2 separate regions of the Homo sapiens genome follow, and region 1 is reported to be linked to region 2. The links are microRNA targets in miRTarBase. Many come from high-throughput screens and were not tested one by one. Region 2 holds a microRNA gene; the other region holds the end of a gene's coding sequence.

Region 1 (5,376 bases), not on the chromosome of region 2:
TGGGCTCAGGTGTGTCCCTTCGGAAAGACAGAAGCTGGTTGTCTGGTCAAAAAGATGGCCATGCCAACCTTGGCACACTGCAGCATGAGCCTGCATGGAAGCGTGTGGTATAGGCTCTGGTGGCACAGAGGAGCACCATTGTGACCTGCTGGGGAGGATCACAGGAAGTAGCATCATGGAGGGGGCGCTTGAGCTGAACATGACGGGAGAGCAGGAAGGGAAGTGACTACCCCACAGGATCTTCTGTGGGTCACCACGTGTGGCTGGATCATGGGGACAGTGTGGGGAGCTGCAGGGAGCTGTGGGAGGGGAGGCCACAGCACAGGAGCAAAGGCCAGGGGACAGTCCGAGTCCCAACCCTCCCCATGCAGGGGCCTGTACTGTTCCTACCAGCTGGCAGGGATCCCATACTGCACTGGAGGGGCAAATGCGGACCCAGGGAGGCACCGAAGGCATGGATCATTGTGTTGGCATTTCGGGATCACAGGCCCAGAGGAGCTAGGGGAGCTATGGCAGGGGGCAATTTGCTCATGGGTGAAGTACTGGGGTTCTTGTGAGGAGCAGATGAGCCAGGGTTTCCTCCTGCCGCCATGGCTTGGCCTGACCCCTCAACCCACAGTGAGCACAAGCATGGTATACCCATGGGACAGTGAACCTGGCCCGCAGAGTCTCAAACAGCATCTCTCCTTGACTTTTCAGAATCGAAGAAGGGAGTGCTGACCTGAGAAAACGAATGTCCCGGTTAGAAGAAGAACTGGACCAGGAAAAGAAAAAATACATCATGCTGGAAATAAAGCTGCGGAACTCTGAACGGGCGCGGGAGGATGCGGAGAGGAGGAACCAGCTGTTGCAGAGGGAAATGGAGGAGTTTTTTTCGACCCTAGGAAGCTTGACTGTTGGGGCAAAAGGTGCCAGGGCCCCAAAGTAAAAGGAATGGCAGAGCTCACTTCTGTACCACGTCTGCTGGTCTCCAGCCTTGTATGGAGTTAGAAGCGTCTGTATCTCTGGAGCAGCCAGGCGCTCTGGAGCCAGCTGGAGAGAGAGAGATCCTGATACCTCTGTGGGGACTGTGGGGACTTTTGGGACCCCACACACTCCAGGTGGGATCAGATGCTGCTCCAACCATGCAGTTCCTGGTGAGGGTCAGAAGGGGACGGTACCAAGAGTAGCGCTTAGCCCTTACCCAGGAAATATCCTTCATGGCCACAGAAATGGAGGGCGCCCAGGATCCAGGCAGCCACCGGGAACAGTCAGCTTTCTTTATTAAATGTGCTCACAAAGCATGGTGCCTTGTTACCTGGCTCATTTTTCATGCCTCGCAATACAGGACACAATACAGGACCACTCCTGTTTCTCCAAGGGCTAGGAGCCCCCTGAGGTATGCCCCTGGGTGGAATAGCACAGGCATTGTGAAGTGGGACGTGAAGCCCCCCAAGGGGCAACAGCCTTGTGCTTTCAGCTGTCTCGTCTGCATGTTCCAGGTGGGATGCCTTTCTTTACTCCCCCCCGCCCCGTAGCCATCTGGACCTCTGCAGCTAGTTTCTGTCTTGGGAGGTCCCCTGGGCTTTCCACCATGGCCCTAGCTCTGCTCCAGGGCCAGAGCCTGAGTGGGCACCCAGCACAGATGCTGTGCTTGGGCGAGGTGTGGGCAAGTGTGGCCACTCTACAGGAGGGCTGAGCCAAGGCCATGGGAAACGTCTGTTCACCGTACTCCAGGTGCCTATGCCTCACTCTGGGCGCCTGCCCAGCTCCCTTCCAGCCCCCGCTTCCCTGCTGTTCACCCCCCTACTCTGGCTTATCCACAGACTTGAAGGCTCCATTAGGGCAAATCCCTCCAGAAAGCCTTTCCCACCCACAGGGCACCCAGGCCAGGCCCAGCTGGAGCTCCTGGACTGTGCTTCAGGAGGCAGCACAGCAGCGCCTCTGGGACCAGCAGTGTCAGACCACTGTCTTCACCTGCTCCCCTCACGGTGTCCTGATGTGTGGCTGGCCCCTTGCTGCCCCTGAGCAGTAACCTGCAGGGGTTTGTTCAGGGAGCAGTGGTCACCAGAGCGCCCAGTTTCTGACCACAGCCTCTAGAAATGTCACTCAGGCCCAACGAGCTCCATCTAGAGTCAGGTATAAATGTTGCCCACATCTGATGCTTTAAATGCCAGGGGCTCAGTGCTCCCAGGAAATGCTGGCTTCCTGCCAGGAAGGCAGGCCCGCAGGGTGAGGCAGGCAGGGCAGCTCCCACAGTGTGGCCAGCTACCCATTGTCTCCAGGCAGCTACCAGGGGCTCGTCCACCAGGAGGCGGGCACCTGCTCAGGGCCCTCAGCAGCATCAAGGTCTGGATGCCGGAGCTCAGGAGGGGCTGGGGAGAGTGGCGTCTGTCTTTGCTCGGCCACTGACACGCGAGCCAGCCGTCTGGGTGATGGGATTTTTCCCTGGTGTTGAGATGCTACCCTCCCCTCTACTCAAGGAGAGAGAAGAGAATAGGAGGTGACTTTGAGTCCTCACAGCAATGCAGTGAAGTAGAAAATTGGCCCTATTATCCATATTCAGAGGAGAAACGGAGGCTTGGAGAAATTGGGTGGGAACAGCAGTGCGTCCTGATGACCCTGTTGAGTTTTCTCGCCACAGCTATGGAATTCTGCTGATTTTTGACCTGGAGAGAAAATGCCACCAGGCTATCAAAGGAGCAGAGGAGACTGAAATGGGTTTCCCATGATGAAAGGAAGCTTGTCTGTCTGTCTCAACCATTAATCCTGGCAAAGGCTTAGGCTCCTGCTGAGTCCCCAGTAGGGATAGGAGCTCATGAATGCCTGAGCCACATCTGCCACCTGTTGGCTAAGTAGGATCTGCAAATGGCATTCTTATCTCAAAATGAATTGGCATGATTATTCAGTTCTGTTCTCCAATCTCTGTGTAACCAGCACTGGGCATCTTATCTGTAAAACATCTGACTTGACTGTCAGGCACACTGAGTGACAGAGGCTGACCTGTCGCGGGGGCTCTAGTATCCCCACCACTACCCACTTCTCTCAATTGAGTTACATTTGCTGAACCTGGTCCCAAACTGACAGATTCCCATTGTACTTGTTATTGTAATTACATCATTTAATATGAAGTAGACTCATGAATTACATGAATTATGAACATGAAAAGGTAGGGAATTGATTCATCGAAACCCTAGAATGCTTTAGACAGACTCAGTAGAGGCACGTTGCTAAAAAATATTGTCAAATTAAGCATGGATGAGTGAAACATGCAATAGCGAGAAATGGGAAGAATCTGGGATTCTGCTCTCAGAATACTTCAACAGTGTCGTAAAACTTGTGTTTGACTTTAAAGAAATACTGGAAATTGTGAATGTCTCACTAAAAAAACAAAGAGTTGTCTTATGTTAAAAGAATAACAAATGAATGCACATGTTCTTTAAAGTTAAAATACAATTTTATGGGTATGTGTGTGTGAGAAACAGAAATAGAAAGAAAAGGAAGATTCCTTGTCTTAATTGGCTTTTGAGTGATGGACCAGGAATGAATCTTATTCCTGAAGGAATTTCGGAATGGAACCCATATATCCATGTTTCCCTGGTCTGTGGGTAAAAATGGAGTCAGTAACAACATTTCCCGGACTCTCTCCTTCTCCTTTTGATGCAGAACCCCAGGCCCCTGCAGAGCCCTCCCAGTATCCTAAGTAATTCTCTCACGGGTGTCTTGAGTTCCTAGCTAAGCAGCTGTGACATTGCCACACACTGCTGCTGTGTCTCCTTACTCCTGCCTCCACCAAGAACCCCCACTTGCACCAGGATTGCCATCCTTTTCTACCAGCCACATTGCTACTACTTCTGTCTCCCAAAGCAAGCCCCGCAACACTTGAGCACAGGGGTCTCACAATGTGTTGCAGTCTGTGAAGAAGTGGGGTAGGGTAGGATGGGGTCATGAAAAGCCTAGCAGGGGCCAGATACTCTGAGGGCCTATCGCCCATGGTGAGAGGTTATTTTTATTCTAAGGGAAATAGGAAAGCATTTGAGAGCTTTACATTAACTCACATGAATTGACTTCCATTTTGATAATGGAAGGGGAAAGAGAAAGCTTTTGAAAGATGGGAACTCTTGAGCATGTCTGTACACTGCTGCGAATGACCCAAATGACAGGGAGAGAGCTGCAGGCAGGTTCATAGGAATGCACAGCGGTCTTTGAGAAGTCCTGAAAAATGCCAAACATGATTACCTTACATAGCATCCCCCAGCTTTTGTGCAGGAGACGTTTTTATTCCCATAAAGCTTCTCAAGCAGAACACAGCAGTTTCCAAGCAAAGACTCCAGAGCCCGCCTGCCCAGATGCGCATCCTGCCCCTGCCGCATGTGACAAGCTGGCTTGATGACCCCACTCCAAGACAGCTAAATCTCTATGCTATCTGGGCATTGGGTCTTAACCCAATGGTTTCATAAATCCCAAGCCCCTGCACTCAGGCCACAGCTGGTTAAAAAGCTCACCAGTTTAGTAAACCAGCAGCAGCTGGCCCAAAATGCCTGGTAGAGACGTGTTTTTCTATAATTATTTCCTCTTTCCCTTCTTTCAGTGAGCTTTTGATAAATGTCTGTCCACTGTGGTAAAAGGAGACAAGGGGCAGGGTCTGTGGTAAAAGGAGACAAGGGACTGAGGAGTAGAGCACTTTTCTGGGCCCAGGCCTGGTGGTGGCTGTGGCAGTGGCCATGGGGATGGGGAGCCTCGGGGTCAGCACGTGGGTTCATTGGTTCAGCTGCACACTGGTGGTGGGTGGGGGTGGGCTTCAGGTTCTAGAATATCTTTTCCTTGTGACACATCAAATCGAGGGAAACAACAGCACTTGGTTCACATCAAACTCTTCTGGGTATGTTTGCCTAGAGACATAGCTGCCATGCCAGGAGACATGAGAGACAGATGCTTGACTTGACGAACCTGTACACCAGGGTGCTGAGCCGAGCCTGGTACCAGTCAGGATGATGGCGGCAGCCAGCACTCACCGAGCACTTGCCACCCCCTGCCCTGCATGCACACGCCAAATCCTCCCAGCAACACTGCCAGGTGACATTAGGCTTCCCACAGGACAGATGACAAAGCACAGCCCCAGAGTTGAGGCACTTGCAGGGAGTGAGGCAGCCAGTGAGGGCAGGATGCTATGTGGGTATTTGGCACCGGAGCCCATGCTCACATCACTATAATATCACAGCGCTGCATGCAGTGTACTCATGTCACACTTTGAGGGCCATGAATGTTGCATTTTCAGAGGACAGAAATGGTGTAAAGGATACGCTCTAGTCATTAGCTTACCCAGCCCACCATTTATGGAACACCTACTTGCCAGGCATTATCTCCAGTAGGACAGGCTCTTCCATCCAGGGGATC
Region 2 (5,376 bases):
ATGTCATTCATACTTTTTATATGGGTAACATGTTGAAATGATACTACTATGGATATATAGGTTCAACAATATATACTCTTAAAATTTGTTTCACTCATTTGTACGTTAAGAAATGTGGCTACTAGAAAATTAAAAATTCCACTTGCATCTTGCATTTGTAGTTTGCATGTTATTTATATTGACAGTGCTGGTCTAGAATGTTGAAGTAAGATGACCTGGTAACAGATCCAGTAGAAGATATCCCAGTAGTTCTTCCCCAAAGACTACCAGTGATAAACTTCTGCAAACCTCCCTTTGCAAAAAGTGCTTTTCTCTCTGGAGTGTTTGGAAGACACCATTAATAGATGGTTGCAAACAACAATCATCATTCACCATGCACATTTGACAGAACTTACTATTAAGAAAGGCTGTAGAAGTGTAAACTTGAAACTAATTAAAACCCTTGCCTAAGGAAGCCCCACCAACCCAAGCAACTTTAAGCAGAAATCTGTGATTAAACGCCGTGTTGTGCTAGTTAACATTTCCCCAGCTGTATCTCCACATTGTCAGTGACTCCCCTCACCTCTTGCCATTTGAAACAGTAAATAATTGGGTTTCTGTTCACTTCCTTGCCTTCTTAATCACTTTTCCCCTGCTGAAGTCCAGTCATTTAGACATAACTGGTCTATCCCCTTGGAAAATTTGAAATGTTTTTGATATTGAGACTTAAACATCTGTCACAGCTGTAGCAGGTTCAGGAGTCTCATTGCCTCTTTGCTGTTAGTGGTATTTGGCAAAGTGCTACATAGCATTACATAAAGAACTACTCACTGATGATGAACTCAGCCTCCAGTGGCAGGCATGAAGGGATTGTTTTTGGAATCCTTCTAAGGAAAGCTCTCCTTTGTGGTGGAATGAACTTCCCTCATCTGTAGTCCCCCCATGTCTCGGTCCTCATTTCTCTAGCTGACGTCTACCTTGCAGCTGGATCTTGTTAGCTGAAAACTACAACCTATTTCTTTTGAGTTAAAGACTCAAACCATCCATGTAGCCAGTGATGCTTTGCCTGACCTGCTCCTGCTCCTTCTGTGGCCGCACTCAGCCCACTCTCCTCTGCACCCTGCTCCAGCCACATTGGCTAGCCCTGGCTCTTGTCCTTGATCAGGTCCTGCTGTCCACCCTTATGTCCTGGCCCTGCAGTGCTCTTTGCCTGGAATACACCCTCCTTCCTTCCCTCTCCACGCAGCTAACTCCTCAAAGCTTAGCTCCTGAAATCTCCAGCCTTTTTATTTGCTGTCATGAGGGCCTGAACTTTTCTATCAAAGTGCTTATCACAGCTAATGATATATAGTCAACATGGTTATATAATTATATAAAGTATGTGCTTACTACTTGGTTTTAAGTAGCTAGAGGGATAATGTTTGTTTTGTTCACTGTTGTATCCCAGGGTTAGAGACTCAATAAATATTCACTGAATGAGTGTATAAATGTGTTTGTTATGTTCCTCCTGCAGACTGCTGGAGGCTTCCTGCAGGTGCTGTCTGCATGGCAGGGGGCATTTCTCTGTCCTCTCCTCCTTCTAGCAGGTGGAGGAGACCCCTGTGCTTTAGACCACAATCACCATGTGTGGGGTGATGGGGGTTTAGGCGGATCGGTGACAAGGAAGGGGGATGGTATCCCCTTCGCCCCTGAATCTTGAATCATTCTTCCCTTCTTTATTCCCGTGGCTTGGGTTGATTCTCCTCACTCCCTGCAATTTCCTTCTCTCTAATTTCACATCTTCTCCCTCTTCCCCACAGCTCATCTGCTTTAGCTGCGTGTGGTTGTCTTCCTTCCCTTTCCACATGCTGCCCCCACCCTCCTGTGAGTTTGACAGTTTCCCACAGAGAGCATCAAGCTCTCTTGGGATGCATGTAGGCACTTTTCCATCTGATTATAGTGGTTTCTAGTTTTAACGCACCCTAACTGAATCACACAGGTTCAATTAACTTCACCATATGTGCTGCCCTTTGGCCTAGAACACAGGGCTGCAAGGCAGGTACAGAGCTCTAAATTAGTCCACTGGTAGAGAATTCTTCATCTCCTGGAGATCATAGCTGTCATGACCTTATATAGTAGGTACAGAATGACTTGCCTTTTGCATAAATGAGAACTTTCTTTCATTGGTAAAATCTTCTAGCTCTCCCTTCAAAGATATACCAAGAAGAATAGCACTTCTCACCACCTCCACTGGCAGCCCCTGCCCTCACCTCCTCCAGGACTCTGCTCAAACTTGATCTGATAAATGTGTGGACCTAATGTCTTTCTCTTAACTTTTCATTGGACTCCTCCTGGGTTTTACTCTGAAAACAGAAAGACAAACCATTGAGATTACGTTAAACATGAGCGGGTTAAGAGCACCCTTTCGGGAGTCATCACTCTTGCTTGAAAGTATCTGATGACTTAAAAGAGACCTTAGAGACTAAGGCAATGGTTTCAAACTTTAAAAAAATAAGTGGAGCCCTTTCATTAAGTGAAATCATATGTAGAAGACTTTACTTCTGCATGTTTTAGAGAAATGAGATGTTTGGCCATGTGGACACATTGCTGAGTCACATGGTGCGCTGGTGGCAGAGGCTGTCAGTACCTTAGGTGAGAGGTGAGGAAAGTGAGGCTGAGAGAGTTTAAATTCTTAATGTAGACACTGGGAGCAGTGAAGGGGAATCTGGGCTTGAAGGTCTTGGCTTTGTCACCACTACCACCCCATGTCCTCTCAACCCAGCCAAACCATAGTACATTACAAAGGTTTTACAAATCTCAAACAAACAAATTTCTGGAAAGCACCACCTAGACTAAAATAAATGCACCAGCAGCTCATTACCATCTTAATCTTCATCAAAATCATCATCATCACCATTCAACTAATTGCCTGTATTTCATTGTTTTGCCAATAAGAAGAGTGTTAGGACTTACCACATACATTTGCTAAAACAAATATACTCCCCACCTCCTTCAAGTCTGCTCAAAGGTCACTTCTCAATGACATGACCATCTTGCTGGGGTGTGCAGTTCCCTGCTGTGCCCTCCCCTGAATGTCCATCCTCCTATCCTGTTCTGCTTTTTCTTTTCTTTCCATAGCACTTTTCACTTTCTAACATATGATATAATTTACTTTGTAAACCAAAAATAAAATTCTAAGGCCCCCCAACCATCTAAACAGACTTCCTCCTCAGCCAGGGCTCTTAAAATTTAATCTGAAAGACTGGTTCAGGCCATGAAGGGAAGTGGGGTCGAACAGGCCTCATCATACCTGTATGGGGCATTAACATCAACACGGACTTTAAACATTTCACAGCCTGTTCTCTCTGAAGCCTGCTAGCTAAAAGCTTCACCTGCATGACAAAACTTTGGTCTCCACAACCTCTTATTGCACCAAACATTCCTTTCTATTGATCCCAAGTCTTTAGACAAACTCAACCAATTGTCAAGCAAAAAATGTTTAAATTTACCTATAGCCTGGAAACTGTAGGTAAGAAACTAAGTGCAAGTTTCTCACATAATGAGCAACAAATGTCAGCTAGTAGTTGTTATCCCATCCCCAATCACCACTCTTTTAATCTGTATGCTCTCTTACACCTTTTGAGAATTAGGACAAAAATTTCTCAAGGAAGAGTGGTGACCGTTCCCCATCAGACCCATAGTGTCACCAAGAATGTATCCCTTATGATCCCAAAGTCATCCTCTCTGAAGAGTAGAGTGTGTGGTCCCAGTTCAGAAGTGTTCCTGAGTAACTTGTGCTTATAACTCAGGACACTTCTGAACTTGGACCATACAGGTCTCCCTGCTTCTGTTATCTCTCAGACTGGTCTGTTCTTAGTCACACTGTGGAAACGGGGCCACCTAGCTAAGCTTCCAGCACTTCTCACCTTATCTGAAAAGGCAGCCACTCTCTGTCCATTAGCATTCTACTCTTCCTTCAAGTTCTAATCAAGATATAACCTTCATTCTTGGCTCGGTTTGCATCAATTCTACCTCCTTCTGATTGCTCATGGAGTAAATTTTTTATCTCACACATTATAGTGCTTCACAGAACTCCTTCCTGCAGTCCTCAATTTCTTATGGGCTCGTAGGTGCAAAAAAAAAAAAAAAAAAAAAAAAATCTCCCCTGAATTTCCGCTCCTAACTCTACCATAACTCATGGTGAACTCGGGAAATTACTCAACCATTCTGGATCTCCTTTACTCCATTTTATAGATAAGGAGTTGAATTGGGTGATGTTCAAGACCTCCTCAGATTTCACATTCTAGGAGATTACAGGCAGTTTAACAGCATGGTTCATGACCAATAATAACATGACATTTCTCATTCACAAGGGCCTGGTAGACCCTTCAACTTTGTCAGTTCCAATCTTTTCCATAATCCTATAAGGGAGGTACTATAATACCCATTTTAAAGATGAGAAAAACTAACGTTCATAACTGTTATAAAACCCAACTTGCTTAAGTGAGTCTGTTATTGCAACAGGGCTGGGATTCTACCCTGAGTCACAGCCTGTGTTCCTTTCTCCTTTCTGATCTGTCCTGTGTCTTCTACTTTTTCATATCACTCTTAGCCATGACTGACAGACCTAGGCACAACAAATGACCTGACGTGAACTCTAGAAGTGGGTTCCAAAACTTAAGAAGAGGGATTCACTCACATTCTCTTGGTTGGCTCTGTGACTTATCTGCTGTATGGGCAGTGCCGTGCACTCTTGGGGCTCCTTGATGCTGGAAGTTGGGCAAAAGGAAGCCCACATGGGGAAGAAGCAGTTCTTCCCCTCACTAATGTACGGCTGTGGACAGGTTATGTAAGTTCTGTAAGCCTCAGTTTACAAACAGTCTTCATCTATTAAATAAGGACAACGATATCTATCTCCAAAGATTGTGAGGAGAACTTTATATGAGGAAATGGGCATAACATCAGTGTGAGGTGTTTGTTTTTGTTTCAAACAAATCTGAATGCAGAACTCAGCATGCTATTTAGTTCTCTCAAAAGCACATACACACACTAGTGAGCAGCAGAGGGTGATGATCTTGTAGGGTGACGTAAGAGAGGGTTTATATCACATACACTGTAGCAAACAACTTAATATTCACATTCTGAGTTGCCTTTCCTCACACGGTGCTAAGCCTCACTGGTTCCTACCTCCCATCCCTCCCCCAATTTTAAAAACCTCCCTGCTTGATTATGCAGAATGCAACACCACCAGCTTTAATTTCCAAACTCATGACCCTTAATGCATTGTGGTGCTCAGAAAACCAAGTCCCTGCCAGTTAATAGGACTTACTCTCTTTGGGCAGTCTTTGGGGTTAAAAAAAAAGATTTTATTTCCTTGTACATTATCATCATCATTTTCATCAACAAAAACTTTACCTG

The links. Region 2 holds the annotated microRNA hsa-miR-5000-3p (UCAGGACACUUCUGAACUUGGA, at 3,764-3,785, shown strand). A microRNA usually pairs through its seed, bases 2 to 8, with sites in the 3' UTR of a target mRNA and lowers its output. Matches are read on the target gene's strand: a 7mer-m8 pairs with bases 2 to 8, a 7mer-A1 pairs with bases 2 to 7 and ends in A, and an 8mer does both.
Region 1: miRTarBase lists ARHGAP22 as a target of hsa-miR-5000-3p. The part of its 3' UTR that is shown has no 7-base or 8-base seed match.

The regions. Positions count from the first base shown.
Region 1 is chr10:48,441,943-48,447,318 of GRCh38, reverse strand. ARHGAP22 (Rho GTPase activating protein 22) reads left to right here. Exons shown (of 10, transcript NM_021226.4): 10 at 700-1,283. The coding sequence ends at 928. Among named protein-coding and RNA genes, the nearest start is that of ARHGAP22-IT1, 67 kb to the left of the region's middle. RefSeq lists an enhancer at 1,250-2,151 and a silencer at 2,699-2,993.
Region 2 is chr2:75,087,110-75,092,485 of GRCh38, forward strand. MIR5000 (microRNA 5000) reads left to right here and starts at 3,703; the gene lies at 3,703-3,805. All of the region lies in intron 2 of TACR1 (tachykinin receptor 1), which reads right to left.